5 linked regions of the Homo sapiens genome follow. The protein of the gene in region 2 purifies or fractionates together with the protein of the main gene of each other region. This does not show direct contact. Each region holds a gene or a part of one and is shown on either strand. Other genes may lie near its edges.

Region 1 (6,217 bases), on a different chromosome or scaffold from region 2:
ACCAGCCTGGGCAATGTGGTGAAACACTGTCTCTACTAAAAATATAAAAATTAGCCAGGCGTGGTGGTGCATGCCTGTAATCCCAGCTACTCGGGAGGCTGAGGCAGGAGGATTGCTTGAGCCCAGGAGGTAGAGGTTGCAGTGAGCCGAGATTGTGCTACTGCACTCCAGCTTGGGCAGCAGAGTGAGACCCTGTCTTTAAAAAAAAAAAAAAAAAAAAAAATTCTAGAAGTAATTCATTATAGAAAGTTTAAAGAAGTGTTTGTGTCCTTTTTAATTTAAAAATGTTGTTAGCATCTGGGTGCGGTGGCTTATGCCTGTAATCCCAGCACTTTGGGAGGCCGAGGTGGGTGGATCACCTGAGGTCAGGAGTTTGAGACCAGCCTGGCCAACGTCGTGAAACCCCGTCTCTACTGAAAATACAAAAATTAGCTGGGCGTGGTGGTGAGTGCCTGTAATCCCAGCTACTGGGGAGGCTGAGGCAGAATTGCTTGAACTCAGGAGGCGGAGGTTGCAGTGAGCCAAGACTGCACCATTGCACTCCAACCTAGGCAACAAGAGCAAAACTCTGTCTCAAAAAATATATATATATAAAAAATATATAATATATATAATACATAAATATAATTTTATATATTATATACATCATGATGTATATAATATATAAATATATACAATATATAATATAAATATAATTTTATATATAATATATATTTTATATATATTATATAGTTTTTATATATATAATATATATAGTTAGCTTTTTTTTAAGATCCTTTGAAAATTAAGTTCACCTTCAAAGGAAAAATTATTTTCAGGTCTTTTGTAAAATAAGTGTGCCCCATTTTTCATTATTTTCTTAATCCATGGATGGCTAATGAGCACACTGAGTAGAATGTAAAACATTAGTTTTTGGAAAAAACATTTAATAGATTGAATCAGATTTGTACCAAGACCATTTAGATCTTGTAATTGGATTTCAGACTATAATAATTTTTCTGGTATCATACATTTTCATGAAAATTTTATGTTGATATTCATTTTATATATGTTTTTAGGAGTTTGAACAGTGTTTGTCAGAATTCACAAACCATGTTAGGTACAATGAGTCATTTACTCCCCAGCCCAGCCTAGATTGTCCCCATGTATGAATGCTGGTTTACATCCTGTGGTTAGTTCTTTGTTGGCTGTGTTTATGTAACCCTGTGCTATTTCATTTAAAATAAAAGTTCTGATTTGGTTGTCAGCTGCTGAGGAGCTTGATATGGAAAATGAATTTTTATTACCACCTGTTTTTGGCGAAGAATATGAGGAACAGCCCAGACCTCGATCTAAAAAAAAGGTACATTCACTTAATAGCCTATATAACAATATTTCTCTATAGGCAAACAAGGATACAGTGTTCTTTTAGTGTGCCTGAGAATATGGGAACATATTTTGTTTTCTAGGTTGGAAAATAATTTATTTTCTATTTATATAGAATATAGTAATAATATATTACTGCTATTTATTACTATTATTTATTACTATTTCTATTTGTATAGAAATAGTAATTATTACTATTTCTAGTAATAATAGTAGTAATAATTTATTTCTAGTAATAATTTATTACTGTTTCTAAGTAATAAAAATATCTCAGATTTAGTTGATACCTCAACTAAACTTGTATTGATACAAGGTCAAAATAGAAAACAGTTGCTAAAGTAGTAAGTTCAATTATTTGACAAAAATTTAGACTGTTTTCTAGGGAGCTGTTTTTTCCACGATTATTTCTGATGAGATGATCAGTGGGGTTGAAGTACACAGTTTATTATTTCTGGTCTCTTTTAGGCATACCAACACACATAGAAAGACATGCTGGACAGTTTGATCATTCAGGTAGACCAAATCTACATGCATTAACAAGTGTAATTGTTATAATATTCTGTCAACTTTCTGTGTTTCTGACTTCCAACATAAAGCAGGTTTTAAAAATACCTTAAGAAAGATAGCTTTCACAAATTGTCCCCAAAAGAAAGAAAAAAAACCGGAAAAGGGAGAGAATACTTGGAGTGGAATGAAGGTGGACTTCTGCTTGACACCAAACACAACAATTAACTCAAAATGAGCCATAGACCTAAATGTAAGAGCTAACAATATAAAACTCTTAGAAGAAAACATAGGCCTAAATCTTAATGGCCTTATGTTAGGCAGTTTCTTAGGTAAGATACCAAACGCACAGGGAAGAAAAGGAAAAATAAATAAATAAACTGGACTACATCAAAATTAAAAACTTTTGCATTGCAAACAGTGCCATCAGGAAAGTGAAAAGGGGGCCAGGCACAGTGGCACCTGTAATCCCAGCACTTACAGCACTCAGGAAGGCTGAGGCGGGAAGATTGGTGGAGCCCAAGAGTTTGAGACCAGCCTGGGCAACATAGTGAGACCTCTACAAAAACTAAAAAATAAAAACCAGCCAGGCATGGTGGCACGTGCCTGCAGTCCCAGCTACCCAGGAGGAGGATCGAGGCTGCAGTGAGCTATGATCGTGCCACTGCACTCCAGCTTGGGCAACAGAGCAAGACCTCTCCTCAAAACAGAACTCCAGCATGGATACTTACCTGGCAGGGGAGATACCGTGATTACAAAACTCTAGCATGGGTGACAGAGCAAGGCCCTGTCTTAAAAAAACAAAAATAAAACAATAAAATAAAAAAGTGAAAAGTACTTAAGTGTCACTCTCTATAAGGTGGAGTTGTTGAAAAGTTCTTCAGTTTCTGTTACAGTAATATTTAGATTATTAGTTTATTGTCTTATATTTATTTTCTCATCATTGGTGACTCTCACCACAGAATTTAATATGATTTTGTTGCACAAAGTGATTTATGTAGAAACATCACATTTCCTGGAATATTAATTGACTGTTGTCAGATTCAGGAATACCAGTCAGTTCAAAGCAAATACCTATATTTCATTTTTTCTTTTCTAATTTCATGACACATTAAACAAATAACTATATTTTTATGACAGATTAAACAGATAACTATATTTGTAATTACAGATGACCGTTGTACAATGCAGTGGTTGGGCTCTGATCCCCCCTGCACAGTCACAAATTTGTGTATAACTTTTGACTCCCTAAAAAGTTAAGTACTAGTAGCCTACTCTTCACTGAGCCCCCCTGCACAGTCAAAAATTCATGTATTACTTTTGACTCCCTAAAAAGCTAACTACTAGTAGCCTACTGTTGACTGGAAGCCTTGCTGATAACAGTTGATTAACACATATTTTATATGCTACATACTGTATTTTTATAATAAAGTTAGCTAGAGAAAATGTTATCAAGAGAATCATATGGGAGAGAAAATATATTTACGATTCATTAGGTGGAAATAGATCATCCTCATTGTCTTCAAGTTGAGTAGGCTGAGGAGGAAGAGGAGAGAGGTTGATCTTGCTGTCTCAGGTGGCACGATTGGAAGAGGTAGAAGGAGGTTGGAGAGGCAGGCACACAGAAAAACATACGTGTCCAAGTGGACCCCTGCAGTTCAAACCCATGTTGCTCAAGGGTCAATTGTAATTTGCCTTTGTTGAGAGATGGCTTGTATAAAGTAATGAAATAATGTAGGCTTTAAAAAAGATATTATTATGGTGTTTTTTACTAATAGGGAGCCAAGAGAAAGGCTGTATCAGGATACCAGTCTCATGATGATAGTTCTGACAATTCAGAATGCAGCTTTCCTTTCAAATATACGTATGGCGTAAATGCATGGAAACACTGGGTCAAAACTAGGCAACTTGATGAAGATCTTCTGGTATTAGATGAGTTAAAATCTTGTAAGTGTTTTAATTTTGTTTCTCCTAAGTCCTATTTAAAATCAAGATTTCTGTTATTGAGTACCTTTAAATTTAAAAAACATAAATGTAACTTAAAATACCTGTAAGAATGCATTTTATTTTACTTCAGAGCTCTTACAAAGAATAACGTCAGAAAGTTTCTTAACCTTAATAAGACGCTAAATAATAACAATTATTTTTTATTTTATGTATTTTTAGCTAAATCAGTAAAGTTAAAAGAGGATCTACTCTCTCACACCACAGCTGAGCTTAACTATGGGTTAGCTCATTTTGTCAATGAGATCCGACGGCCAAATGGAGAGAATTATGCACCTGACAGCATCTATTACCTTTGCCTTGGAATACAGGAGGTTAGTAATTTGATGGCTGCTTTCAAGTATAACATTAATAAGAAAAGTTGTGGTAGTTCTTGTTTCTGTAGCATTATGGAACCTTTATTGACTTACCAAGAAACACATCTACAAAGTTGTATGTTTGCTGCCATTTATATATAAATGATAATCAGGATGACATTCTTTCCTTACCCATTGCAGATAAGTGAATTCACATTATAAGGCATGATATGTAGCCACATCTGGCTATAGATCCATGCTGATCTACATGTAAACAGAAAAATGTCATAACTCTGTAAATAGGTCTGTTTCACTGTATGCTTCTGATGTGTTTCTAACTTGTTAAATAGTATAACTACTCATTAATTCTTTGGCTATTTCATAAAAAGAGATCATTCTTTAGGGGTAAAGATAAACTTCATCCACATGTCTATGAATTTGTTTTCTACAGTAAACATGGAGATCAACTTTAAATAATGACCTCTAGTTCTGAACAGATTCCACAGATTTGTGCCCAGAAGTCAGAAAGAATCTCCAACTTGACATTCTATGTATTTTGAAATATGGTAGATGACAGGGGAGATCTCTTCAGAGTTTTGTTTGTAGGCCTAAAAATTCATTTTATTCTGCTAACAGGTGTTAGATAATGAAGTAAATCACTGAAGAAAACTAGAATTGTCTTAATTTGTGTTTTTTTTACTTTTTCTTTAGGATAGAAATTTGCTTAAGATTCTGTAAGTGGTGGTGCAGATATATAGTGCATGGCTATAAATCACTGTATTCAAGGACCATCATATATCTTGCAGTAGCAACCTAAAAGATACGTGAATAGGTTTACTTTTTTCTTATTCTCGTTTTATAGGTTTACATGTACTTTGAGCCTCATGCTTAGATGATAATATAGGTCCACCATTCCACAAACCTCTGAAAAGCAGAATTTTTTTCATGAAAACACAGTAAACAGTAAAACCTAACTTAAAGGATTGTGAAGCTGTTGTTGTCTTTATTACTCTTGGTGTTAATATTCGTCCATAGAACATTAACCATAGAATTTACTATAGAATTGTTAATGTTTCTAAACAAGTACAGAGTGTTTACCCACACCACTCTAGGAATATTAATGTATTATAATTATGTACATGCCCTGTTTCCCCTGTAAAATCCAAACAATGATGAATTCCAAAACATGTGACTCCAGTGGTTCTGGCTGAGGGGTTGAAGATCCATGTGTGTATTTTCCCTCCTCTTCTTTTATTATACCTAGGAGGGAGGGGGAGACTAGGAGTAGCATTTATACTGTACCAGGTGTAGATGAAATTGTCTTGGTCCTCTAGTTTCAGAACAATTTATTTAAGGAGAACATTTATATTTTAGAAATAATTCTGTTATCTAGATCAATTATTTTTTAAAGTGCTGTAGAGAGCACTAGCGTTGTGCCATATCAACTCAGCAGGAAGAGAGTTTGAGTTCTAGGCTCCTCTTGTTTTAATTCATTCCTACTTTTGGGGGCTGTGTTTTGGGGTTATGTATGGAATTTCATTTAGAAATTTCATTTCTGGTAGAAACAAGGCTTAAAAACATATTTAGATAATAAAACTTTTAAAATCAATAAAAACAACAAAATAAGGGGTTCTCTGCCCCACTGATCTCTAGTCTACCTAGTTCCTCTCCCTAAGGACGTGCTTTTTGCTCTTTTAGCTATTTCCCCTGGCATTACTTGCAAAATATAACTGATTTTTATATATTCATCAGTTCACTATTCTAGTAGGTGGTCTTGTTTTGTTATTTTTTAAATATATCTTAGAATTTTCTATATACACAATCATGTCACCTATGAATAAGGACAGTTTTACCTCTTTCTGATCTTTCTTTGCTTTGCTTTACTACATTGCTTGAAACCTTCCCCCATTTTTCTCTCCTGCCACCCAAACCCTAGTCCTAGTACAGTGTTGAATGGAATTAGTGATAGCAGAAACTCTTGCCTAGTTCCTGATCTTAGAGGAAAGTATTTTGTCTTTGACCATTAAGTACGATGCACCCTTTAGGGT
Region 2 (7,004 bases):
CTCAGGGTTTTCAAGGTAAACAATTATATCATCAGCAAACAGGGACAGTTTGACTTCCTCTTTATCGATTCAGATGCCCCTATTTCTTTTTCTCATCTGATTGCTCTGGCTAGGACTGCCAGTAATATGTTGAAGAGGAGTGGTGAGAGTGGGCATCCTTGTCTTGTTCCGGTTCTCTGCGGGAAGCCTTTCAACTTTTTCCCGTTCAGTATTATGTTGGCTGTGGTTTTGTCATAGATGGCTTTTATTACATTAAGATATGTCCCTTGTATACTGATTTTGCTGAGGGTTTTAATCATAAAAGGATGCTGGATTTTGTCAAATGCTTTTTCTGCATCTATTGAGATGATCATGTGATTTTCATTTTTAATTCTGGTTATGTGATGCATCACATTTATTGACCCTCCTACGTTAAACCACCCCTGCATCTCTGGTATGAAACCCACTTGATCATGGAGGATTATCTTTTTGATATGGTGTTGAATTCGGTTAGCTAGTATATTGTTAAGGATTTTAGCATCTATGTTCATCAAGGATATCAGTCTGTCATTTCCTTTTTTGGTTGTGTCCTTTCCCGGTTTTGGTATTAGGATGATGCTGGCTTCATAGAATGAATTAGGGAGGGCTCCTTCTTTCTCTATCTTGTGGAATAGTGTCAAAAGGATTGGTACCAATTCTTCTTTGACTGTCTGGTAAAATTCTGCTGTGAATCCTTCTGGTCCTGGACTTTTTTTTTGTTGGTAATTTTAAAATTACCACTTCCATCCCGCTGCTTGTTATTGGCCTGTTCAGGGTATCTAATTCTTCCTGATTTAAACTAGGGGGGTTGTATTTTTCCAGGAATGTAACCATTGCTTCTAGGTTTTCTAGTTTATGTGTGTAAAGGTGTTCACCATAGCCTTGAATGCTCTTTTATATTTCAGTGGTGTCAGTTGTAATATCTCCTGTTTCATTTCTCAGTGAGTTTATTAGGATTTTCTCTCTTCTTTTCTTGGTTAATCTTGCAAATGATCTATCAATTTTATTTATCTTTTCAAAGAACAAGTTTTTGTTTCATTTACCTTTTGTATATTTTTTCTGTTTCAATTTCATTTAGTTCTGCTCTAATCTTGGTTATTTCCTTTCTTCTGCTTGGTTTGGGTTTGGATTGTTCTCGTTCCTCTGTTCCTTGAGGTGTGATCTTAGATTGTCTGTGCTCTTTCAGACTTTTTGATGTAGGCATTTAGGGCTATGAACTTTCCTCTTAGCACAGCCTTAGCTGTATCCCAGAGGTTTTGATAGGTTGTGTCACTGTTGTCATTCAGTTTGAAGAATTTTTTAATTTCCATCTTGATTTTGTTTTTGACCCAATGCTCATTCAAGAGCAGGTTATTTAATTTCCAGTTATTTGCATGGTTTTGAAGGTTCTTTTTGGAGTTGATTTCCAGTTTTATTCCACCGTGGTCTAAGAACATGCCTGATATAATTTCATTTTTCTCTTGTTGCCCAGGCTGGAGTGCAATGGTGTGCTCTCAGCTCACTGCAACCTCTGCTTCCTAGGTTCCAGCAATTCTCCTGCCTCAGCCTCCCGAGTAGCTGGGATTACAGGCACATGCCACCACGCCTGGCTAATTTTTTGTATTTTTAGTAGAGACAGGGTTTCACCATGTTGGCCAGGCTGTTCTGGAACTCCTAACCTCAAGTGATCCACCAGCTTCGGCCTCCCAAAGTGCTGGGATTACAGGCATGAGCCACCGCACCCGACCTATTTTACATTTTAACAATTGCTACTGAGGTTGAGCATATTTTAATTTATTTACGTCTATTCAGGCTTCTTGTCAGTTCAGTTTAACAAAACAAAACAAAACAGCTTATTGAGATAGCATTCACATCCCATACAACTCACCCATTTACAGTGTACAATTCAGTGGTTTGGAGGCAGTGGGCCTCCCCAGTGGCCATAACCCATCTGCTGCTCTTAGATGGGCCTTAGCATTCTGCCCTGTATTCCCTTCCCCATCCCGAGGTCCCTTCCTGGTGTCACATTGGCATTTACATCTTTAGCTACCGAAGATTCCAGGGCCAGGGCTTGGTCTCAGGCTGTGGCCTCCGCTGGGCTGTCTCCAGTCACAACCAAGGGTTATCTCAGATGTCCCTCCTGCCCACAGGGCTGCACACTCTGCCAAGAGACTCTCTACAGCCCTCAGCAGGGCGTGTCCTTGGTCTCAGGCTTGGGGGAAGGTGGGGTGGGGACAGAGTCAGGCCATCCATGAAGGACAGTGGCAGGACCTGAGCTCATTCTGCTCCCTGGAACCTAGAAGGTGCTCAGCAAATACTTGTGGAAACATTAGCGGGCAACATTGAGGGGCACTGATTTTGTGCCAGGAGCTGTGATCTGCCTTTTCCATTCTCACGTCTCCCTCTGTGACCCTCTCAAGAACCATGGCAATTAGGTGTTATTGTTACTTCCGAAAGGCTCAGAGACGTTAAGTAACCTACCCACGGTTGCACAGTAAATAAATAAACCAATGAACAATGCGCCATCCTAGAGCTACAGGTGCCGTCGCCCATCAAGGGTCTCTCTGCAAAGATCTGAGCCCCTTCCTCTGCCCTGAGTATGCCAGCTGGGCACACTGAGAGTGGAAATAGAGCCACAGTTGCTCATCTTGACCTGTGAAGCCTGAAGAGTGAGGACAGGAGAGGAGGGAGATGAAGATTTAGCATAGAGACCCTAGGAGGGGCCATGGGGGGCATGGGACCACTGTGGCTGGGGCCTGGGAGGACTTCCTGGCGAAGGCAGCATTTGCCACCAGGATCCTGCTGATATTTTCATCCTGTGACCTTCCCCTGGGGTTCTTTTTTCCTGATCAGGTAACTCCCTGCTAGCCCATTCCAGGAAACACAGAGCAAAGCCTCAGACAGCCTTGACTTGTCTAACCTGTTCCCAAGCCGGCTGTGCAGTGTGGTCCCTGGGGGCAGGGCCCTGGAAGAACAGGGCAGACACCGAGCAGCTATAGGTCCTGGCAGTGAGACAAGGGTAGGCATGGGAATTGGGAGGTGCAGCCCTGCCCCACGCCTGTTGGGTAACACTGAGCATCACCCCATTGATTACCCCATTGCCAGGCGTGGGCACGGGAGTTGGTTTGGGAGCTGCCAGTCTCCTGGGAGGATCGCAGTCAGCAGAGCAGGGCTGAGGCCTGGGGGTAGGAGCAGAGCCTGCGCATCTGGAGGCAGCATGTCCAAGAAAGGGAGTGGAGGTGCAGCGAAGGACCCAGGGGCAGAGCCCACGCTGGGTTATGTGGGGCCACAGGGGTGAGGGGCGGGCAGAGGGAGCTCAGGGTAAAGGACACTGGTGGGAACCAGGGGCATGGAGGGAAGGGGATGTGTGCCCATGGCCCGTGGGTCAGGGGGCAAGCCCACCAAGGGGCCTATGGCTGCAGGGGCCATGGGTACGGGGCTTGCTCAGGAGAGGGAGGTGGGTGCTGGTGTCTTCTGAGCCTCACTTTGCCCTTTGGCAGGCTCCTGGGAAGCAGCCACAGAAATGAAGCCTGTTCCCCAGGAGCCCCAGGGATGGGGACAGACCCCGTCCTCCCTTTGAGGAGCTCCCAGGTTAGAGGAGAAGGCAGCTCTGTGGACAGACAAGGATTGGGTCGGGGGCACCAGGGCTGTGATCAGGAGGTGCCGGAGAATCGGGGATTGGAAGCAGAGAGATTCTTGGCAGTTGAAGCGAAAGTCGGATCTTTGGTTTCAGATGTTAAAAGCAACATGCATTGCTTGTTTCTGGTTCTAGAAATACTACATTCGCATTTAGAAAGTCTGGAAGCTGCAGGAAGATGTTGAGAAGACAGTGAAAGGCACGAGGCACACATTGGCACATGGTGTCACAAGGCTGGTGTGAGGAGAGGGGCTGGGGGGCCTCCCTCCTCGCACTGAGGCTGTGAGGAGGGCAAATCAAGTCGTCTCTGGGAGCCTCGGTTTCCCTGTCCTTCCAACTGGGTAATAATAATAGCTGTGAGGCTCAGATGAGATGTGCATGCCAGCTACCTGGCCCCAGATGCCAGCTCTGACTTCTTTCTGGGCCCTGCACCAGGCATGGCCACTGCCAAGGGAATGAGTCCCCTCTCCATATGACAGGTCCCATCAGGCCTCCACCTTCCTGTGTGTCTTATTTCTCAGCATCTGCCCCCACAGGGCTTTTGCACACGTTGGTCCCTCTGTCCAGATCACCTGCCCTCCAAGAGGCCCTCCCCTACGGCTTCCCCGCAGCAGTCAGAGCCAGGGGTGGGTCTCTGGCCACCTCTGGAAGAAGCCCTGGCCCACCGATCATGTTTGTAATGATATTGTTTCCGGTGTCATTGTTCCGTGTGTAGACTGTGAGCTCCATGGGGGCTGGCCAAGTCTGGGGTGGTCACCTATGGGACCCAGGTCCAGTCAGGAACTGCCTGGTGAGCAGCCAGAGGTCCCCAGTGTAAACCCAGAAAATCTGAGACGGGTCTCAGTTAATTTATAAAGTTTATTTTGCCTGTAATCCCAGCACTTTGGGAGGCCGAGGCGGGCGGATCACGATGTCAGGAGATCGAGACCATCCTGGCTAGCACGGTGAAACCCCGTCTCTACTAAAAACACAAAAAATAAGCTGGGTGTGGTGGCGGGCACCTGTAGTCCCAGCTACTCGGGAGGCTGAGGCAGGAGAATGACGTGAACCCGGGAGGCGGAGTTTGCAGTGAGCTGAGATCGCACCACTGCACTCCAGCCTGGGCAACAGAGTGAGACTCCGTCTCAAAAAAAAAAAAAAAGAAAAGAAAAGAAAAGAAAAGAAAGAAAGAAAGTTCATTTTGTGGCCAGGCGTGGTGACTCATGCCTGTAATCCCAGCACTTTAGGAGGCTGAGGCAGGTGCATCACTTGAGGACAGGAGTTTGAAACCAGCCTGGCCAACATGGTGAAATCCTGTCCCTACTAAAAATTATAAAAATTAGCTGGGCATGGGGGCGCATGCCTATAATACCAGCTACTCGGGAGGCTGAGGCAGGAGAATCATTTGAACCTGGGAGGCAGAGGTTGCAGTGAGCCGAGATCATGCCAGTTGCACTCCAGCCTGGGTGACAGAATGAGACTCCATCTTAAAAAAAAAAAAAAGTTAATTTTGCCAAGGTTGAGGACGTGCACCTGTGACACAGCCTGGGGATGTCCTGACAGCATGTGCCCAAGGTGGTCGGGACACAGCTTGGTTTACACACTTTAGGGAGACAGGAGACAGCAATCAATATATGTAAGAAGGCCAGGCACGGTGGCTCACGCCTGTAATCCTAGCACTTTGGGAGGCCAAGGCAGGGATCACCTGAGGTCGGGAGTTTGAGACCAGCCTGACCAACATGGTGAAACCCCGTCTCTACTACAAATATAAAATTAGCCGGGCATGGTGGCAGGCACCTATAATCCCAGCTATTCAGCTATTCGGGAGGCTGAGGCAGGAGAATCGCTTGAATCCGGGAGATGGAGATTGCAGTGAGCTGAGATCCCACCACTGCACTCTGGCCTGGGCAACAAGAGAGAAAGTCTGTCTCAAAAAAAAAAAAAAAATACATATATATATACACACACACACACACACACACACACACACACAAAATACATACATACATATATATATATATATATATATATATATATATATATATATATATATGAAGTACATCGGTTCCATCCAGAAAGGCAGGGACAGCTTGAAGCAGGGGGTGGGGGTGAGGGTTGGGGCAGCTTCCAGGTCACAGGTAGGTGAGAGACTGCATTCTTTTGAGTTTCTGATGAGCCTTTCCAAAGGAGGCAATCAGAATGTGCATCTATCTCGGTGGGCAGAGGGGTGGCTGTGAATAAAATGAGAGGCAGGGGCCCGCACGGTGGCTCATGCCTGTAATCCCAGCACTTTGGGAGGCCAAGGTGGGCGGATCACCTGCGGTCAGGAGTTCAAGACCAGCCTCAACATGGAGAAACCCCATCTCTACTAAAAATACAAAATTATTTGGGCGTGGTGGTGCATGCCTGTAATCCCAGCTACTCGGGAGGTTGAGGCAGAAGAATTACTTGAACCTGGGAGGCAGAGGTTGCGGTGAGCTGAGATCGCAGCATTGCACTCCAGCCTGGGCAACAAGAGCGAAACTCCGTTCCAAAAAAAAAAAAAAAGGGGGGGGAGGCAGGTTGGCCCTGATCAGTTTCCAGCTTGAATTTTCCTTTTAGCTTACTGATTTTGGGGGTCCAAGATATTTTCCTTTCACACCAGTCAGCCCTGCCCCAGCAAGCGCCCGGACCCCTGCCCTGCAGCAGGTGGGCGAGACAAGAAAGCACCTTGCATGAGAGGCAGGGCTTGGGTCCAGCTCCAGCCCCCATCTGTTTCCTCATCCGTCAGGCAGATGCTGCTGGCTCCGTGATTATTTCACCGAGCACCAGATGTGCACATGTGAGGACAGGCGACGACTGCCCAGAAAGGGCAGGGGTTCCTCTGCCCCACCTGCCTCACCTGGGAAAGCTGTGACCACGCTGAGGCCAGGTTCCTGGGATGAACATCAGGACACCTGTGTGCCATAGCTCATCCCAGACTCCTCCAATCCGGGTCTTGATTCAGGCCGGAGGCGGTCATCCCTCCAAAGGCACCAGGGAGCCATGGAAGAGGTTAGAGCTGAGCTGATGTGGCCAGGAGCTGCTTGAGCGCCGGGTGGAGGCTGCTGACGCTCGCATGCCAGGCAAAGCTTTGGGTCAGGGCCCTGGAACCTGGGACCTGGAAGCGCTCCAGGCCAATACCGCCCGCTACCAGAGAAGGGCCCAGGCCCCACCCAGGTTCTAGCCCAAGGGCTTGAGCAAAGACAGTAGATGAATATTTGCAGAGCCCTGTATGCTGCGTCCTCCTCCAGGCCCTCATGCAGGGGGGCCGCACACTGAGTGTGGGGGTCCTGTGCCAGGAATGTGATCACGCTGCCCAGGGGAGGGAGGCGGCATCTGCAGGTGTGGCCAGGAAGGTGCCCAGCATGGC
Region 3 (6,217 bases), on a different chromosome or scaffold from region 2:
CCTGGCCTTGTCCAGGCCAGTGTGAAAACCCCTATGCGGGGTTAAAGCATTTCACAACCCCCAAACTGTACTTCTAGTATCTGTTGATTGAAAACACACATAAGGCCCACAAGTTTCAAGGAAGGATTTAGATGGTTCTCTCTTTTAACACAGAAATGCCATATTGGATAAACTAAACCCGCAGAAATAAAACTCACAGAATGCAGCAATCTCAGTCTCTCTCTCTCTCTCTTACTCAGTGTGCATGTGTTTATCTGCCTCTTTACCTACATCATATATATACTTGCTAAAATACTCTGTGATAGCAAAACATCAGAAATAGGCTGACTCTTCAATCAAACAGGACCAGTTGAATCCCTGATAGTACTTCTTACCATGGAAGGTTAAGTAGCCATTAACAGAAATGACACCTTATATGTACTGACATGGAGAGAGAGCTATATTTTTTTTTCTTTTTTCTTTTTTATTGAGATGAGGTCTCCTTATGTTGACCAGGCTGGTCACAAACTCCTGGGCTCAAGCGATCCTCCCACCTTGACCTCCCAAAGTGCTGGCATTACAGGTGCCAGGCACCAAGCACCATTAATTTTTAAATTATTTGTAAAAACAGGGTCTTGCTATGTTGCCAGGACTGGCCTCAGGCAATCCTCCTGCCTTGGCCTCCCAAAGTGCTGGAATTACATGCCACCATGCCCACCATATGATATATTCTAAAGGAAAACAAGCAGGTTGCAAAATAAAGTATAAAGCAAAATCCCATTATGGTTAGAAGGGAAAAGGATGTATATATGTGTTTGTACAAGCAGAGAAGAGTGAAAGGGGTGTTCCCGAAACTGTCAGCAGTGGGACAGGAAAGGGGTAGGGAGAGTCTAACACTTCTTTATGTTACAACTATGTTACATCTATGACATGTTACTTTTATAACTTGTAAATGTTTTTGTTTTTAACAAATTTGCAACTATTATGCATACATTTGAAAATCTCTAGCGTATACAAGAGCTTTTCAAATGTCTACGTTCCACCAAGTCCTACTTAGGGTTACAGTGGTCACAGCAGCTCTAAGCAGGATGGGGGAAGTGATTTGCCCAATAGGAGACCCTGTTATGCCAGTAGAAGCTGGGTCCTAGTGAGTGAAGGGAGCCACGAGCCCACTCCTGGCCTCATCTCTCTCTCTAGCACCAGTTTGATGGGCAGCTTCTTTGGCCCCCAGTATGTGGTTCCTTCATGCTAGAAGAAGGTTCAGAGCAGCCAGTCCAGCCAGTCTTCTTGGAGAGAGAAATGAAGCCCAGGACAGTGACTTGCCCTAGGTCACCCACAAACCCAACCAGATGCCCCAACTCTTGGCTCAATTCCTCTTATTTTTCCACATTTAAAAGGCAACCTTCAAAAAGACTGCAGGAAGGAGAACCAGCACCCACCATCACTCCCTGACAGCATTGCCAGGACAGCTTTTCTTTACACCTATCAAGTCTTTGATCCCAGGTAGACAAGCTCGTTATTGACTTGCAATTAGTCAGTCTGCATGTCATTTAGGAACCTTTTTTCTCCTTAAATATTCCAGGTTGCTCTATAGTATCCATAATTTCTGCTTAATTGCCAGGAAACATTCTCTATAATGGACATAGCAAAACTGATTTACCCAGTCCCTAATGCTGGACACGCAAGTCACTTCTAAGGTTTGGCTATCATAAACACCACTGCAATGAACATCTTTGAGTTAGAGGAAACTGCTGTCTTCTTGCTGATTATATCCCTACGGGCAGATTCTCGGAAGGGTATTACTGGGTCAGAGGGATGAATATATTAGGATTCTGGATATTTATGTGACAGAGAATTCAACCTTGTCAGAAAGGGGCTCCAGGGCCAGAATGCCTGGGCAGATGCTGGCCTCTATGCTTGACCTCGAGCCAGTTACTTATTCTCTCTCTCCTCAAGTTTCCTCATCTATAACATTGAGATCAGCAATAGTGTTGATATGAGAATTAAATAAACTGAAACACATAAAGAGCTTAGAACAGAGTAAACATTCGATGTTAGCCACTATTCTAACTTTGCTATAATTATTATTCATTCAGTAAAAATGCATTAAACACTTATTGTGTTAGGCACTATTCTAAGTACTAATCTTGCCAAGTTGTTACTTATGAATTATTACTGCTTTCCAAAAAGGCTTTGCTTTTTGTTTGTTTTGTTTTTTGAGACAGGGTCTCACTGTGTTGCCCAGGCTGGAGTGCAGCGGTGTGATCACGGCTCACTGCAGCCTCAACTTCCCAGGCTCAGGAGATCTTCCCAGCTCAGTCCTGAGTAGCTGGGACTACAGGTGCACATCACCACACCCAGCTAATTTACAAATCTTTTATAGAGACAGGGTCTCATTATATTGCCCTGACTGATCTCAAACTCCTGGGCTCAAGTGATGTTCCTGTTTCAGCTTCCCAAAGTGCTAGGATTATAGGCATGAGCCACCATGCCCGGCCCCAAAAGGGCTTTGCTAATTTGCATGATCACTAGTATGTACAAAGTGCCAGTTTCAGCACTGGATATTGTTATTTTTACACTTGAATTTGCTGAGTGACCTTCGAAAAGTCACTTCCCGTTTATCTTCCAGTAAACTGAGAGTATAGGCCTGGATGCCTTCATATCTTTTGGCTCTATGACTGTGGCCCGTCAGGCAACTGTCAGCAAGTTGGGTGGGAGGGGTCTGGGGGCCATGAATAGTCACACTGTGCCCCCACTACCAAATAATGACTTGATACCTGGTGATATCTCACTTAATTTTCTTCACGTTCGTCTATTTATTATCTATCATCTGTCAATTATCTACCTACCTACCTACCTACCTACCTACCTACCTACCTACCTACCTATCTATCTTCCATCCTCCCACTACAAGCAAGGGGCACTGGTGCCCTCCCAGCATTAATCTTGTCTGTGGAGGCCACCACTGGATACTAAAGCATGAAGTAGCCTTGGAAGGCAGGGGATGGTTTCACTGGATGGCATTAAAAATTACCCATGGCTCACAGTCATATATAATATGCAAAATCAGCCTACGCCCTTCAACTCCAGAAAAAATAATACTATCCCAAGGTAATGGGGAAGGACAGGGGAGACGGAGGTGGGGGTGCGGTGCTCCACTTCCTTTCCTATACCCCTTTGTCTGTCTTGGTGATTTGGTTCAACCTGGTTCACCTGCTTCCAGACACAGGCCAGAGGGGGTTACAGTATTACAGTATGACTGTTCAGGACCACCAGTTCCCCCATGAGAGTTGGGGCAAAGTATGACTCTTCAGGCCCCCCACTTGCTGGCAGTTGCCTGACGGGCCAAGTCATAGAGCTAAGGATATGAAGGCATCCAGGCCTATTCTCTCAGTTTACTAGGAGATAAAGGAGAAGTGACTTGTCTAAGGTCACTCGGCAAATTCAAGCCACACTAAGTGTCCTCAGTGCTGGTCAGAGCCCTGTGCACCATTTCACACTCACCATGGCAATGGGACGCCCAAAGTCCAGAACCCAGTTCTGCAGTGTGAAGTAGAACCAGAGGTCGAGGTGGAAGGGAGCCGTGCGGGCAGCCTCATCAGCGCTCACAGAGCCATGCCTGGGAAGGAACCAGACGAGAGAAGTCAGCTCTTCTCTCCTCCTCCACCAAAATCTTCCCCTGAGATTAGCCACAAAGAGGTCTGGGGACTTGAGGACAGGAGGAGACACACATAATTGAGTTCTATGGATAGGGTTTTGCTGGATATACTGGGGTCTGGCCCTGTGGTCAAGGAGAAGGTGGACTTCAGCTGCCCCGACCTTAGCTTCTCTCTGATTCAGGAAGGAAACAGCTGAACAGGTGTAATTGCTGGGGTTTCTCCGCTACTGAAAGATGGAGGAAATCAAGAAAGGCAAAGGACGCAATCGTGGCTGAAAAGCATGAAACTTGATGATGGATCATGGCAGCTGACCTTAGTTGAGCACTTACTATATCCCAGGCACTACTGTTAGCTGTTTACATGTATTATCTCATTTAATCCTCACAGAAACCTTTCAAGGCTGAAATATTACCTCCATTTTAGAAACGAAAAAACTGAGGCCCAAGAGGCTCAATAACTTGCTCAAGGTCACACAGCTAAGGATTTGAACCCAAATGATTGGGCTCCTGAGCTTATACTTTTAACCTCCATCCCATAGTTGGGTCCATCAGGATTGGTCTATGGGATGGGCATGTGACCAGAGCTTGGCCAATCAGAGCCCTCCAATGAAATGTGCTTTAGAGAGACTGAAATGGATAGGGCCTCCTGCTCGCTTGATTCCAGCACTGTGAGGAGGTCAGGTTGGGCTGCTGGTAATCCTCTTCTCAGCAGTCCACAGTAGAACCTGAGAAGGAGCCAGCAGAAGCAAGGTGATGTGAGAGACACAGCAGGAAGTGGAGTACTGCCTCACGATACATCTTTGGAGGCCTGTCCCTCTCACTAAACAGTTGGTCATCTGCTGTTCACAGATGCACTGAAGTTCCAGGACCAGTGCTGCCTCCTCTGGGAAGGCTTCCCTGATGAAGCTTTTCCCAAAGCCCCACCAGCCCACTGCAGGGAGCATTTCAACGCCAACCCAGTCTGGCATAATGGGGCTGGAGCTGTACTCTCCCATCTAGACCCTCGAGAACAGGGGTGACCTTTAAGGTTCTCCCAACTCACCCACCTCCCTATCAGAGTCCAAATCCTCTTTACAGAGTCCCTGCAATTACTTGCACACCTCCAGGGACAAGCAGCCAGCCACATCCTAAGAGGACTGAGGTGTGGGTTTCATCGTCTCGTTTGTGCCAAGAACAGGCGCCATGGACCACAAATCTGTATTCCTCCAGAGTTCTGAGCTCAGGCCCTGGTCCATGCTCAGCAACTACTGGCTGATTAAAACAGTCACAACGACCAGTTACTCCTTTTGTAGTGGCAAACATTAGCTTAGAGGCACTGCAAAGACTGTCTTCTGTCGATACTGCTGTTGCTTCCCTAATTTTCTGAGATCCCTTCCTGCCAGTTCCAAGGATGATCCATACTGGCTGGTAGAGTACCCCAGGACAGGGAGGCAAGCTCTTGGGAGAAATCTCATTTTCTAGTGGCAGGCAAGACAGGTTGGGTAGGCCTTCCCTAGGTCAGCTAAGTCTTCCTGTCCCCTCTACTCGGTATCTTCCACCCCCTCACTGAACACCAACTATGTGCAATGCTAGGTCTTTACCTGCACTATCTCATCTAATCCACGCATCTGCTTTACAGATGAGGATACTGAGGCTTAGAGGGATTAGGTGCTTAGCCAAAGCCACCCGTGTAGTAAGGAGCTGTGGCAACAATTCCTTTTGTCAGCCTATTTCCCACCCACTGCTTCTTCTGGTAAGACATGATATTTTCTTAGCCACAGGAAGGGCCAGTGATCTAGACTGGCCCAGTGGGACTTTTCCAACTGCAGGTGAGGAAAAGAGCTCCTTCCTTTATAGTGCTGGGTTCTAAGGGTGCAAGCCCAGGACTGCCTACAGCCAAGGTTCCACCCTCAAGGGACATCCAGGTAAGAATGAAGTAGCCTCGCAGAGAGGATCAGGGAAAGGGGGAGAAAAAGTGCTGACAGTGTTCATGTTGCCAGTTCATGATCTGGCCATATGAGCCAACACATTCCTTTTTGCTAAGGATGGTGCAGTTCACACTGGCTTTCTGTCACTTGCAACCCAGTCGTCCTGAATAACACACACAATTCAAACCTGGGTTTATGTTAATTCAAGACCTGTGCTCTTAATAGCTTGCTATTCTGTTTTTTTGTTTTGTTTTTTGGAGACAGGGTCACCTAGGCTGGAGTACAGTGGTGTGATCACAGCTCACTGCAGCCTTGGCCTCCCAGGCTCAAGCATTCCTTCCACCTCAGTCTCCTGAGTAACTGGGACCACAGGTGCATGCCACTATGCCCAGCTAATTTTATTTTATTATTATTATTATTATTATTATTATTTTTTGTAGAGATGAGGTCTCACTATGTTGCCCAGGCTGGCCTCAAATTCCTGGGCTCAATAATCAACCCACATCAGCCATCCATAGTGCTGGGATTACAGCTGTGAGCCACCATGTCTGGCCAACAGCTTGCTATTCTGTTTTTGATTACTAGGCTTATCAGGAGATCAGGTTAGAAAGGGATCTCCCTCCCCCCTCCCCCAACCCTCCCCCTCTCCCTCGCTTCTTCCTTCTCCCTCTGT
Region 4 (6,217 bases), on a different chromosome or scaffold from region 2:
CTGAGGTGCGGGGACTGCTTGAGTCTGGGAGGCTAAGGCTAAGCCTGCAGTGAACTGTGATCGTGCCACTGCACTCCAGCCTGCACGACAGAGTGAGACCCTGTCTGGGAAAAAACACTAACAAACAAACAAATAAAAATCTTTATTTCTCTTATTCTGAACTGTTAACAGTTAACAAACAGATACGTTTGTTTAAAACAATAGTAGCAACAATGTATTTGGTGATTACAGTTTATGGATCAGAGAAATCCATGACAGCAGTAATATCAAGGACAGGAGGGGAGAATTGGGAGGACTCCATTCTAAGGTACTTGCACACTCCATGCAGTGGTATAGTGTTATTTGAAAGTGGATTTGGATTAGTCATAAATGTACATTGCAGACTCCTGGGCAACCACTAAAAAGGTTTTCAAAAGAAGTATAATTGATATGCTAAGAGAGGAGAGAAAATGGAGTCATACAAAAAAAGCTGACGCTTTTAAATGTTTGCCTGAAAGCTTCAGGGAGTCATTGAAAGACTTTAAGAAGAAGAGTGACAAGATCAGATATGTAGTTTACTAAGAACAAACTGGGTAGTCATGAGAATAAACAGGATGTGGATGGACCTCACGGGATGCAGGGAGACCAGCTGGACGAGAACCCCAGTAATCCAGGCAAGAAGAGGTAGGGCTCAAATGAACCCACGTGCACTCAGAGGAGAGACCAACAGGAGAGAATCTTTCAAAGAAGCGGAATGTTAAGGTCTGCTAAGCAATAGGTATAAGAGGAACATTTTATCAGTCAAGGTTCAACCAGAGAAGCAGAATCAGTAGATTACAGACAGACAGACAGGTAGATACCAAAACATAACATGGGGCAACATGGAGTTCCTCTAACTCCTGAGCTCAAGCAATCTGCCTGCCTTGGCCTCCCAAAGTGCCAGGATTACAGGTGTGTGCCACTGCACCTGGCTATGACACACACATATACATATTTTATATATTTCTAAAATATATTTGTATACTATAATATATATTTTCTAAATATATAAATTATATAACTATATAAATATATAATTTTTTAAATTTATAGATATAGCAACATATATTTATAATATATAAATTTATATATACATTTATTTATATAGACATGAATTACGTTTAAATATAACATATAAAAATAATATATAAACATAAATAATTCATATAGCTATATAAAATCATATATAAATATATAACTTTATATGTTATAAATATATGTTGATCTATCTATATAGATTTTATAATTTTTTCTTCTTTTTTTAGGCAGGGTCTCAGCTGGTTGCCCAGGGTAGAGTGGAGTGGTGCAATCATAGCTCACTGTAATCTCAAACTCCTGGGCTCAAGGAATCCTCCCATCTCATCCTCCCTAAGTGCTGGGATTACAGGCATGCACCACTCCTGGCCTAAATATATATAATGCTGACGTAATATAATATTGATAAAATATAGAAATTGATTTATCACAAGGAATTAGCGAATTGGCTCACATAACTGTGGCTGTTGGCTAGGCAATCCTGAAGTCAGCAGGGCAGGCGGCCAGCAACAGACCATCCCAGGGGAGAGGGAGCAACGCGGGTAATGGCTCAGAGTCCAGAACCTCAGAGGGGGTTCAGGGGTGTTCTAGCCCTCCTTTAAAGGGCTTCCACCTGATTAGGTCAGGCCACCCAGGATAATCTCCCTTTTGATTAACTTAAAGCCAAACAATTGAGGAATTTAATTAGGTCTGCAAAATCCCCTCACAGCAGCACCTAGATTACTGTTTGTCTGAAGAGCTGGAAGATGGTGTGTGTGTGCTCCTGGGTAGCCACTATAACTGGAATATACCAGAGAGGGAATCCCGGGAGTCTTGCTTAGCTTAGCCAAGTTGACACATGACAAATATCCAGAGTGATACCTAGGGTTTCTGACTTGGGCGATAGGTGCTAACAGGGAGAGCACAGAAAAATTGGCTTTGAGGGAGAAAATATTAATAGTAAGCTTGATTTCTGCATGTTAAGTTTCAAATACCATGGGATTTTTTTTTTTTTTTGAGACAGGGTCTTGCTCTGTTGCCCAGGTGGGAGTACAGTGGTATGATCATGGCTCACTACTCCAGCCTCCACCTCCCAGGCTCAAACGATCCTCTGACCTTAGCCTCTCAAGTAGCTGGGACCACAGGCATGTGCCAACATGCCCGGCTAGTTTTTGTATTTTTTGTAGAGACAGGGTCTCCCTATGTTGCTAGGCTGGTCTCAACTCCTGAGCTCAAGGGATCTACCTGCCTCAGCCTCCCAAAGTGCTGGGATTACAGGAGTGAGCTACCAGCCCCGGTCCTGCCATGGGTTTTTTTTTTTTTTTTTTTTTTTTTTGAGAGGGAGTCTTGCTCTGTCACCCAGACTGGAGTGCAGTGGTGCGATCTCGGCTCACTGCAACGTCCACCTCCTGGGTTCAAGCAATTCTCCTGCCTCAGCCTCCTGAGTAGCTGGGATTACAGGTGCGTGCCACCACACCCAGCTAATTGTTTGTATTTTTAGTAGAGACGCGGTTTCACCGTGTTAGCCAGGATGGTCTCGATCTCCTGACCTCGTGACCCATTACCCGCGTCGGCCTCCCCAAGTGTTGGGATTACAGGCGTGAGCCACCAAGCCCGGCCGGGATTTTCTTAAATGCAATAGGCCTCTTCCTGTCTCAGGTCCTTTCCAAACACAATACTCAAAAGCTAGTCTTTCCTCTCTTCACTAAATAGTACCTATTTGTCCTTTTATTTTTTTGTACAAATAATTTTCAGATTTACTTCTATAGCTTCTACTACTAGGTCATTTTGTTTTTTTCTTGGAAATAGCACCTTAGCTAAGTTAAATAATTCACCTGTGAAGTGAGGTGGTATGTTCATTTTGCTCACGACTGTCACCCCAGTGCCTAGCACAATATTCAAGTATTTGCTGAATAAGAAGTTCATCAGCCTGTGGGTATTCAGGCTTGAAAGGAAACAGAGGTCAGAGCTAGAAGGAAAAAACTGAGTCAGCAGCATCGAGGTGATTTACGATAAAGTTTTCCAGTGAGAACACACAGAATGGGAAGAGGAGAGAGCTGAGGACAAACCCTGAAAAATCAGGACATTTAAGAAGCCAAGGCCGGGCACAGTGGCTCACACCTGTAATCCCAGCACTTTGGGAGGCCGAGGCGGGTGGATCACCTGAGGTCAGGGGTTTGAGACCAGGCTGGCCAAGATGGTGAAACCCCATCTCTAATAAAAAAAAAAAATACAAAAATTAGCTGGGCGTGGTGGCAGGCACCTATCATCCTAGCTATTCAGGAGGCTGAGGCACAAGAATTGATTGAACCCAGGAGGCGGAGGTTGCAGTGAGCCGAGATTGTGCCACTGTACTCCAGCCTGGGCAACAGAGTGAGACTCTGTCTCAAAAAAAAAGAAGCTGAGGCCGGGCACGGTGGCTCATGCCTGTAACCCCAGTGCTTTGGAAGGCTGAGGCGGGCGGATCACGAGGTCAGGAGTTTGAGACCAGCCTGGCTAACATGGTGAAACCCTGTCTCTACTAAAAATACAAAAAATTAGCCGGGCGTGGTGGCAGGCGCCTGTAATCCCAGCTACTTGGGAGGCTGAGGCAGGAGAATCACTTGAACCCGGGAGGTGAAGGTTGCAGCGAGCCGAGATGGCGCCACTGCACTCCATCTTGGCAACATAGCAAGACCCTGTCTCAAAAAAAAAAAAAAAAAAAAAAAAGAAGCCGAGAAAAGGAAGCCCCCAAAGATGGGAAGAACCACCAGAAAGAAGAGAGAAAGGAGGTGGAGACAGGCACAGGCCTGTAATCCCAGCACTTTGGGAGGCCAGGAGTTCAAGTTCAAGAAAGGAGGCAGAAGGGACAGTGTTGGGGAAGGAAGAGCAGTGGTCAATTTTTAGATTTTTCGTTAAGGCGGAAGAGACATCAGGAAGCTGATATGCTGGAGGTACGCCATTTCCTAAGAGGAAAGACCAGGAACAAGAGGAGAGGCTCAATATGGAGTATCCACAGCGCCCTGGCCTGGCCCCGATGCTTCTCTGAAGCGGCAATCTCCAGAGAAGTCAGAAGGCAGACAGAAAGAGTCCACTGCCAAAACAGACTTCCCCTCTCCCTGCCACCTGGCCTCCTGCAGGCTGCTTCAAAGACCAAAGGCATTTATCTCAGTCCCAGCTGAAGCAAGAGTGGGAGGAGGGGAAAGAGTTCACTTTCCCATGCTCTACATGAACCTAAAAGGAGTCAGCTTGGCTGGCTGAACACACGCTGCCTTGGCTTACAGAGCCCCAGGCTCATACATGCTGGAGACAGCCTGACTGAGCAAAATGCTATGCCTCCCCCTCAGCACACACATACACACAGAGCCAGACCTTCTCTGACATCTCTGTTCACCTTAACACAACATTGCAAAGTCCTCTGCTTCTCAGAATGGAGGGACTATCATCAAGGGGTAATCTAAACATTTGCTAATTATGCAAGAGCCTTTGCCTTCTTAATTGAAGTCAGGATAGAAACTGCAGAGTCCCTGTCTTAAATAAAACATAAAGCCAAAACAAAAACAAAACAAAAAAAACACTAAACGATCTGTCTGGAACATTTCCCCCCACACACCCACTGTCCCCCAATGGGCACTCTTCCCCGACTCCTTCAGGACAAACTCAAATCCTTCTGTGATATATACTCCTACAGCATCCTGTCCTTTGCAGCATGCTGGGCGTTTGTGATTGTCACCTTCTTGTCATTGACTGTGATTTGTGTAAAGTCTGCCTCCCCTGACAGACTGTAAGGCTCACAAGCATCGGGATCATGTCTGTGATGTTTACTGCTACATGTTTCACATGCCCTCGAAGAATATTTACTGCTTACCTGAAATGCATTCCAACTTCTTCTTGGGTCTCTTGGCATCAAGGATGTCACCTCTTTTAAGTCAAACTTAGAACCTGCCTAGGTTACAGAATTAAGAGCACGCTTTCTTTCATGAAGTTGCAAAACTGTCTACCTTGCCTGTACTAAGTCATACTGGTCTCTAAATTTTCTTCTACAGTTACTGTCCCTCCTCCCACACAAGCCACATCTAGTCTTCCCTAAAAAGGTCATCATCATGTCCAGGGTAGCCCCACTTCTGTATGGTCCCACTACTAGGAACAAAGTAGGAGTAAAAATCAGACCAGTGATTTAATGATATCTCCCTCCTAGGATTAGAGAATGTCACAGCTTGAGGCCGGGCGCAGTGGCTCACGCCTGTAATCCCAGCAATTTAGGAGGCCGAGGCGGACGGATCACGAGGTCAGATCGAGACCATCCTGGCTAACCCTGTGAAACTCTGTCTCTACTAAAAATACAAAAAATTAGCCAGGCGTGGTGGCACGCACCTGTAATCCTAGCTACTCAGGAAGCTGAGGAAGGAGGATCGCTTGAACCCGGGAGGCGGAGGTTGTAGTGAGCCAAGATCGCACCACTGCACTCCAGTCTGGGTGACAGAGCGAGACTCCGTCTCCACAAAAAAAAAAAAAAAAAAAAAAGAGAGAGAGAATGTCATAGCCTGAAGACATGTGATCTAAGATCTCAGTTTACAGAAGAGGAAACTGAAGCCTAGAAAGGTGCACATGGATTGGGCCACCACAGTGGGCATTTTTGATACACTTGGCCCTGCACTAAGCGCTTGCAGCAGATATAAACACGAACAATCAACAGATCCAGTCCTCAAAGATTGGACAACAGCTAAGGCCTTACTTCCCCAAGGTCCTCTATCCACTATAGCCTACTTGCCAACTCCGAGGCCTGGCACGGTGGCTCACACCTGTAATCCCAACACTTTGAGAGCCCAAAGCAGAGAGATCACCTGAGGTTGAGAGTTCAAGACCAGCCTGACCAACATGGAGAAACCCCCGTCTCTACTAAAAATAAAAAATTAGCCAGGCGTGGTGGTGCATACCTGTAATCCCAGCTACTTGGGAGGCTAAGGCAGGAGAATCGTTTGAACCCGAGAGGTGGAGGTTGTGATGAGCCGAGATCGCACCGTTGCACTCCAGCCTGGGCAATAAGAGTGAAACTCCATCTCAAAAAAAAAAAAAAAAAAAAAAAGGAAAGAAAGAGAGGGAAACAAAGAGAAAAAAAAAGTAATAGACTACTGCCACCTCTGACGTAATGCTCATCCTTCCCAGAAAGAGCAGATTTTCTCTGGCAAATGGTATCAGAGATCAG
Region 5 (4,704 bases), on a different chromosome or scaffold from region 2:
AAGTGAAAATTTTTCTCTCATCCATGACTAACCTCCAGCAACAGAACCCAGACCAAACCTGTAGGCCGACTCTGCAACTTGTAGAAGAACTGGTCGAGCTGAATCACCTGAGGCCTTCTGCTTTGCATGCACAGGAATCAGAGAGCAGGAAAACAGGTGACAGAAAAGAAGATAAAACAAAAATGACCATACATTAACTTTAAACATTACTCATTGGGTTCTAAATCCATGATACAACTAAAATGTCAAGGAAAAAAGTAGGAATGGATTTCATAAGTTCTTATTAATAAAAAGATTTTAGTGCTATTAATGTTTAAAACCAAATTTCAATATAATCAAAACCATCCTTTGACAAAAATGATGTTATAAGCCTATTTTCAAATTCTCATTAAAAAAAATGCACAGTTAAAAACATCACTGAGGCCAGGCACGGTGGCTCACGCCTGTAATCCCAGCACTTTGGGAGGCTGAGGCGGGCGGATTACCTGAGCACAGGAGTTCAAGACCAGCCTGGATAACATGGTGAAAGCCCATCTCTATAATATAACACAAAAATTAGACCAGCATGGTGGCATGTGCCTGTAGTCTCAGCTACTCAGGCTGAGGAGGGAGAATCACTTGAGCCCAGGGGGCAGAGGTTGCAGTGAGCTGAGATCACGCCACTGCACTTCAGCCTCGGCAACAGAGCAAGACTCTATCTCAAAAATAAAAATAGGTCGGGTACGGTGGCTCATGCCTGTAATCCCAGCACTTCAGGAGGCCGAGGTGGGTGGATCATGAGGTCAGGAGATTGAGACCATCCTGGCTAACATGGTGAAACCCCGTCTCTACTAAAAATACAAAAAAAAGAAAAAAATTAGCTGGGTGTGGTGGCAGGCGCCTGTAGTCCCAGCTACTTGGGAAGCTGAGGCAGGAGAATGGCGTGAACCCGTGAGGTGAAGCTTGCAGTGAGCCGAGATCGCGCCACTGCACTCCAGCCTGGGCAACAGAGTGAGACTGTATCAAAAAAATAAAATAAAATAAAGTAAATAAAGCAAATAAAAACATCAATGAGACATCATTTTTCATCAATCAAATTGGCAGGTTTTTGGTTTGTATGTATTTTTGTTTTTGTTTTAAGTGGCAATACCCAGCCTGGCAAAAGTTGATAACAAGCCTTCTGAAATTTGCCATTAAAGCAAGCATAAATAGAGAGATGTTTAGTAATATACACCCAAACCCTTAAAATGTACATAACCTCTGAAGTTAGAATAGGCTGGGTGCAGTGGCTCACACCTGTAATCCCAGCACTTTGGGAGGCCGAGGTGGGTGGATCACTTGAGGTCAGGAGTTCGAGACCAGCCTGACCACCATGGAGAAACCCCGTCTCTTCTAAAAATAAAAAATTAGCCGGACGTGGTGGCGCATGCCTGTAATCTCAGCTACTTGGGAGGCTGAGGCAGGAGAATCACTTGAACCTGGGAGGCGGAGGCTGCAGTGAGCCAAGATCGCGCCACTGCACTCCAGCCTGGGCAAGAAGAGTGAAACTCCGTCTCAAAAAGAAAAAAGTTAGGATAGAAGATAATCATGCATGTAACAAGCTACAAGAATGTAGCACTTAAAAAACATTTGTAGTACTTATTGGAAATTTCGATTATTTCCCAAATTTTTGCTCTTTAAACAAAAAGAACAAAAATTTGGGAAATATTCTAAATGTCCAATAACGGAGGACTATAGCCTTTAAAAATAATAACTTTAAAACAAAACCCTATCATTCAAAATGATACTGTAAAAGAATATTTGATATTAAATGTTCACAAGGAATTATAAAAGAAAACATAGGCTAAAAAGAGCATGGTAAGTAGATAGGTATTTGTCATATGATTCTTTGTACCTATTTAAATGTTTGACCTATTTCCTGGTAATTTTTTTAAAAACAATTTTTAAGACTATATACAAAATGATGTCACTTTTTATTAAAAATGCTTGTAAGAGGTTTACATATATATGCATATAAAATTAATACTAATATTTTGCCTCCCTACCACCCAGAGATACTCAAAACATTTACAGTAGCTAAAACTAGGTGGCTGTATTACAGTTGATCGTTACTTTTTCTCTTTTTTTGTCCATCTTTTCTAAATTCATACTTCAGGTCAGTCAGTCATTGTTTTCTGGTTCTTTTGACCTATTATCCTCACAGTGTTTTTGATGCCAGAACATTTCAGAGTGCTGCACTTCTCTGTCTGCATAAATAAAACAGTAATTTTATGTCACAGAGAGTTGTCAAATGAGGGTGACATATAGTCAGTGCTTAATAAATACCTGTTGAATGAATACATACATTCAATAAAATTTGTTTTTCAGAATCCATGATAATTAAAATCAGTGAACAATGAAAATAATCAGCAACCCCAGCTATCAACCCACTGAATTTTAGTTGCTGTCAATGTAACACAATTCTAATACAATGAGATCATTTGGAATCTCCTTCAAAGTCACTTAACTGAAAATAGCTTTACATAGAAATATGCCTCTTTAAGATACAAAACATTTCTTTTGCAAATTCTATGAGTTGTTTCCAACTGTAGCCCTATATAGATGGAAATCAATAGTACCTTCATTTTGACAGATGCATCCAAAAGAGAAGCAATATTTTATTTACAGGGATATAAATATGCAATACTTAGAAATGTTCTGGCATCAAAATAATGAGTGAAAATACTCTGAAAATTATAGAGGGTGGGGGGAGGAGGGACCTACCACCACCATTAATTCCTCTCCTAAAAGACAAATGAAATCCTAGACTTTTATTTAACTTTTCCAAAGCCAGAACTGTAGCATGTTCTTGAAATGAGACAAAACTCTGCTCCTTCACTCCTCTGTCCAGGATAAATGCTACAAGTGCTGCACAGTGCTGGACAGGCAGCGCTGTGCCCACAGGTGGACGACCTCCCTTGCTTGAATTTGTCGGGCCCACTAGGGTTCATGCAGTAAAAAGCCTATTCCAGGTAAGGCCATTGTGAATTGCTCTAAACCTCTAAGCGGCAGCGAATCATTTCCTGCTATAAATCTCATCAATCTGGTCTAACCCTTTCATGGCCAGTATCAACAAGCACCCATCATAAACTCTCAAAAGCTGCAAAGAGCTTAAAGGAAAAATTGTGGGAAGCCGCTGCCAGCTGAAGAGTAGGAGGGATCTAAAAAAAACTTCTCTGCTTCTCTTAATCCCCAAATTTCTACAATAGCTGGTGGCATACAGACGAAGAGATAATCATCTCCTAAGCAGTGTTAAAAATCAAAGGGAAGGGAGAGCAGTGTTGCTTCCACCTCTACACGTGATTATAGTTATTTCTCCTGCACTCAGAGAAATCGGCTTCCTCTTTTAAGCAAGGCCAGCTGGTTTTCCAGAGGTGCTCGTTAGAATTTACTGAGCACACACCCACTACTTTGACTTGCATGCTGCACACAAAACTCACCGCTGCATTTGGGTGGGAAAGAGCTAAAAGAAGGGGGCCCTGGCTCAAGGTCTGACAGTCCTAAAAGTGTAGCCTGCAGCAACCCATTGTGGTCACACTGGCGTCTCTGTACAAACCCAGAGCTCCATGCCAGAAACTGCGAAGTCTCACAGGATTCAGAGATGGCTCTGCCTAAAAGGAGAAATTTTTCTAAAAACGACACTCGCCTGTGAGTGGATTTATTTTACAAACACCATTTATTTTACTAACACATGCTATGAAGGCTTTTCTTCTCTAATCCTGATCTACAGAAAGCTGGGTAAGAGTTAAAGGAGAAAGTTCCATGTCTTAAGTTTCTGACTCCCACAACTTCAAGAGATTGGTTTCTGTTAACCATAAAATAAAATTTAGCATTCCTAAAATTGTTTCCATATAACTTATGAATCCTTTCACAGAGAAAATAGGTCTGAAAGCCTTTAAACTGTAACTCCAGACTAAACAAAATTATCTCATTTTGATATTCAGAAAAACGGAAGGCATGGCAGTTAGACGATGCGCTGATGAAGGGCTGCTCCACAGAGCAAAGACGGCTTTCATTTAGCAACGTGCAGCTGCCGACAGGCACAGTGACACCAACACGGGATTCTTTCGCTACATCTCTCAACATGAGACTTCAAGAAAGGAGAAAAGACCTCCTTCATGTTTTCGGAGCATTAGGCTTCTGGTGCAGTTAGGAAATCACTCCACCTTAGCAAGAAATGAGCAAATGCCAAATACCTGTTTATCACACCATTTCTAAGCAATTTCTCTTTACAGCCTTTAAAATTTATCGAGAGTTTTGGTGCAAAACAGAAAAATGGTTAAGTCAGATACCAATGCCGCAAAGGCAACTGCAAGTGGAACAGGGTTGGGGTATCCTGCTAAGGAAACCCCAGAATGCAAGTTTGCTCCTCTTTGCTCACCTGCCTCTGGGCCTCAGCCAAGTTAAAGGGCAGAGTTCCCTCTTCCAGAGGAGCAATCCGTTCAATGTCTGCTAAGGTCATACGTCTGTAGGGGAAAAACAAACACAAGCAACAAATATACCAATTTATTACAATTTACATTATAAAATTTAAAAACATCCCTTTTTTCATTTCTCATATTTCAGTATAGCCTTCAGTTTGGCTTCTTTTTCTCCTGATTGCTGCCCTCCTCCTAACCTCCTTTTATTAAGCTAATTCCAAAAAAAAAAAAAAAAAAGCCAACTTACCCCCTTGGCTCATATAAA

Evidence for each region.
Region 1: the proteins of ALDH3B2 (region 2) and ZMYM2 purify together in Homo sapiens (affinity purification with mass spectrometry, with the first as the bait; one large-scale study listed by BioGRID). This does not show direct contact.
Region 3: the proteins of ALDH3B2 (region 2) and CLN6 purify together in Homo sapiens (affinity purification with mass spectrometry; one large-scale study listed by BioGRID and IntAct). This does not show direct contact.
Region 4: the proteins of ALDH3B2 (region 2) and SFXN2 purify together in Homo sapiens (affinity purification with mass spectrometry; one large-scale study listed by BioGRID and IntAct). This does not show direct contact.
Region 5: the proteins of ALDH3B2 (region 2) and SLC25A13 purify together in Homo sapiens (affinity purification with mass spectrometry; one large-scale study listed by BioGRID and IntAct). This does not show direct contact.

The regions. Positions count from the first base shown.
Region 1 is NC_000013.11:20,063,204-20,069,420, forward strand, and holds part of ZMYM2 (zinc finger MYM-type protein 2), read left to right. Parts: intron 1-1,247; coding exon 1,248-1,342; intron 1,343-3,647; coding exon 3,648-3,816; intron 3,817-4,035; coding exon 4,036-4,187; intron 4,188-4,880; coding exon of another isoform or gene 4,881-4,907; exon of another isoform or gene 4,908-5,153; intron 5,154-6,217. UniProt on the Homo sapiens protein: Involved in the negative regulation of transcription.
Region 2 is NC_000011.10:67,670,705-67,677,708, reverse strand, and holds the start of ALDH3B2 (aldehyde dehydrogenase family 3 member B2), read left to right. Parts: upstream 1-3,085; 5' UTR 3,086-3,273; intron 3,274-3,729; exon of another isoform or gene 3,730-3,975; intron 3,976-6,181; exon of another isoform or gene 6,182-6,646; intron 6,647-7,004. UniProt on the Homo sapiens protein: Oxidizes medium and long chain fatty aldehydes in lipid droplets into non-toxic fatty acids.
Region 3 is NC_000015.10:68,215,053-68,221,269, forward strand, and holds part of CLN6 (ceroid-lipofuscinosis neuronal protein 6), read right to left. Parts: intron 3,599-6,217; coding exon 3,484-3,598; intron 1-3,483.
Region 4 is NC_000010.11:102,716,443-102,722,659, reverse strand, and holds part of SFXN2 (sideroflexin-2), read right to left. Parts: intron 6,047-6,217; exon of another isoform or gene 5,949-6,046; intron 5,225-5,948; exon of another isoform or gene 4,891-5,224; coding exon of another isoform or gene 4,880-4,890; intron 1-4,879. UniProt on the Homo sapiens protein: Mitochondrial amino-acid transporter that mediates transport of serine into mitochondria. Involved in mitochondrial iron homeostasis by regulating heme biosynthesis.
Region 5 is NC_000007.14:96,184,895-96,189,598, forward strand, and holds part of SLC25A13 (electrogenic aspartate/glutamate antiporter SLC25A13, mitochondrial), read right to left. Parts: coding exon 4,687-4,704; intron 4,485-4,686; coding exon 4,400-4,484; intron 121-4,399; coding exon of another isoform or gene 118-120; coding exon 33-117; intron 1-32. UniProt on the Homo sapiens protein: Mitochondrial electrogenic aspartate/glutamate antiporter that favors efflux of aspartate and entry of glutamate and proton within the mitochondria as part of the malate-aspartate shuttle.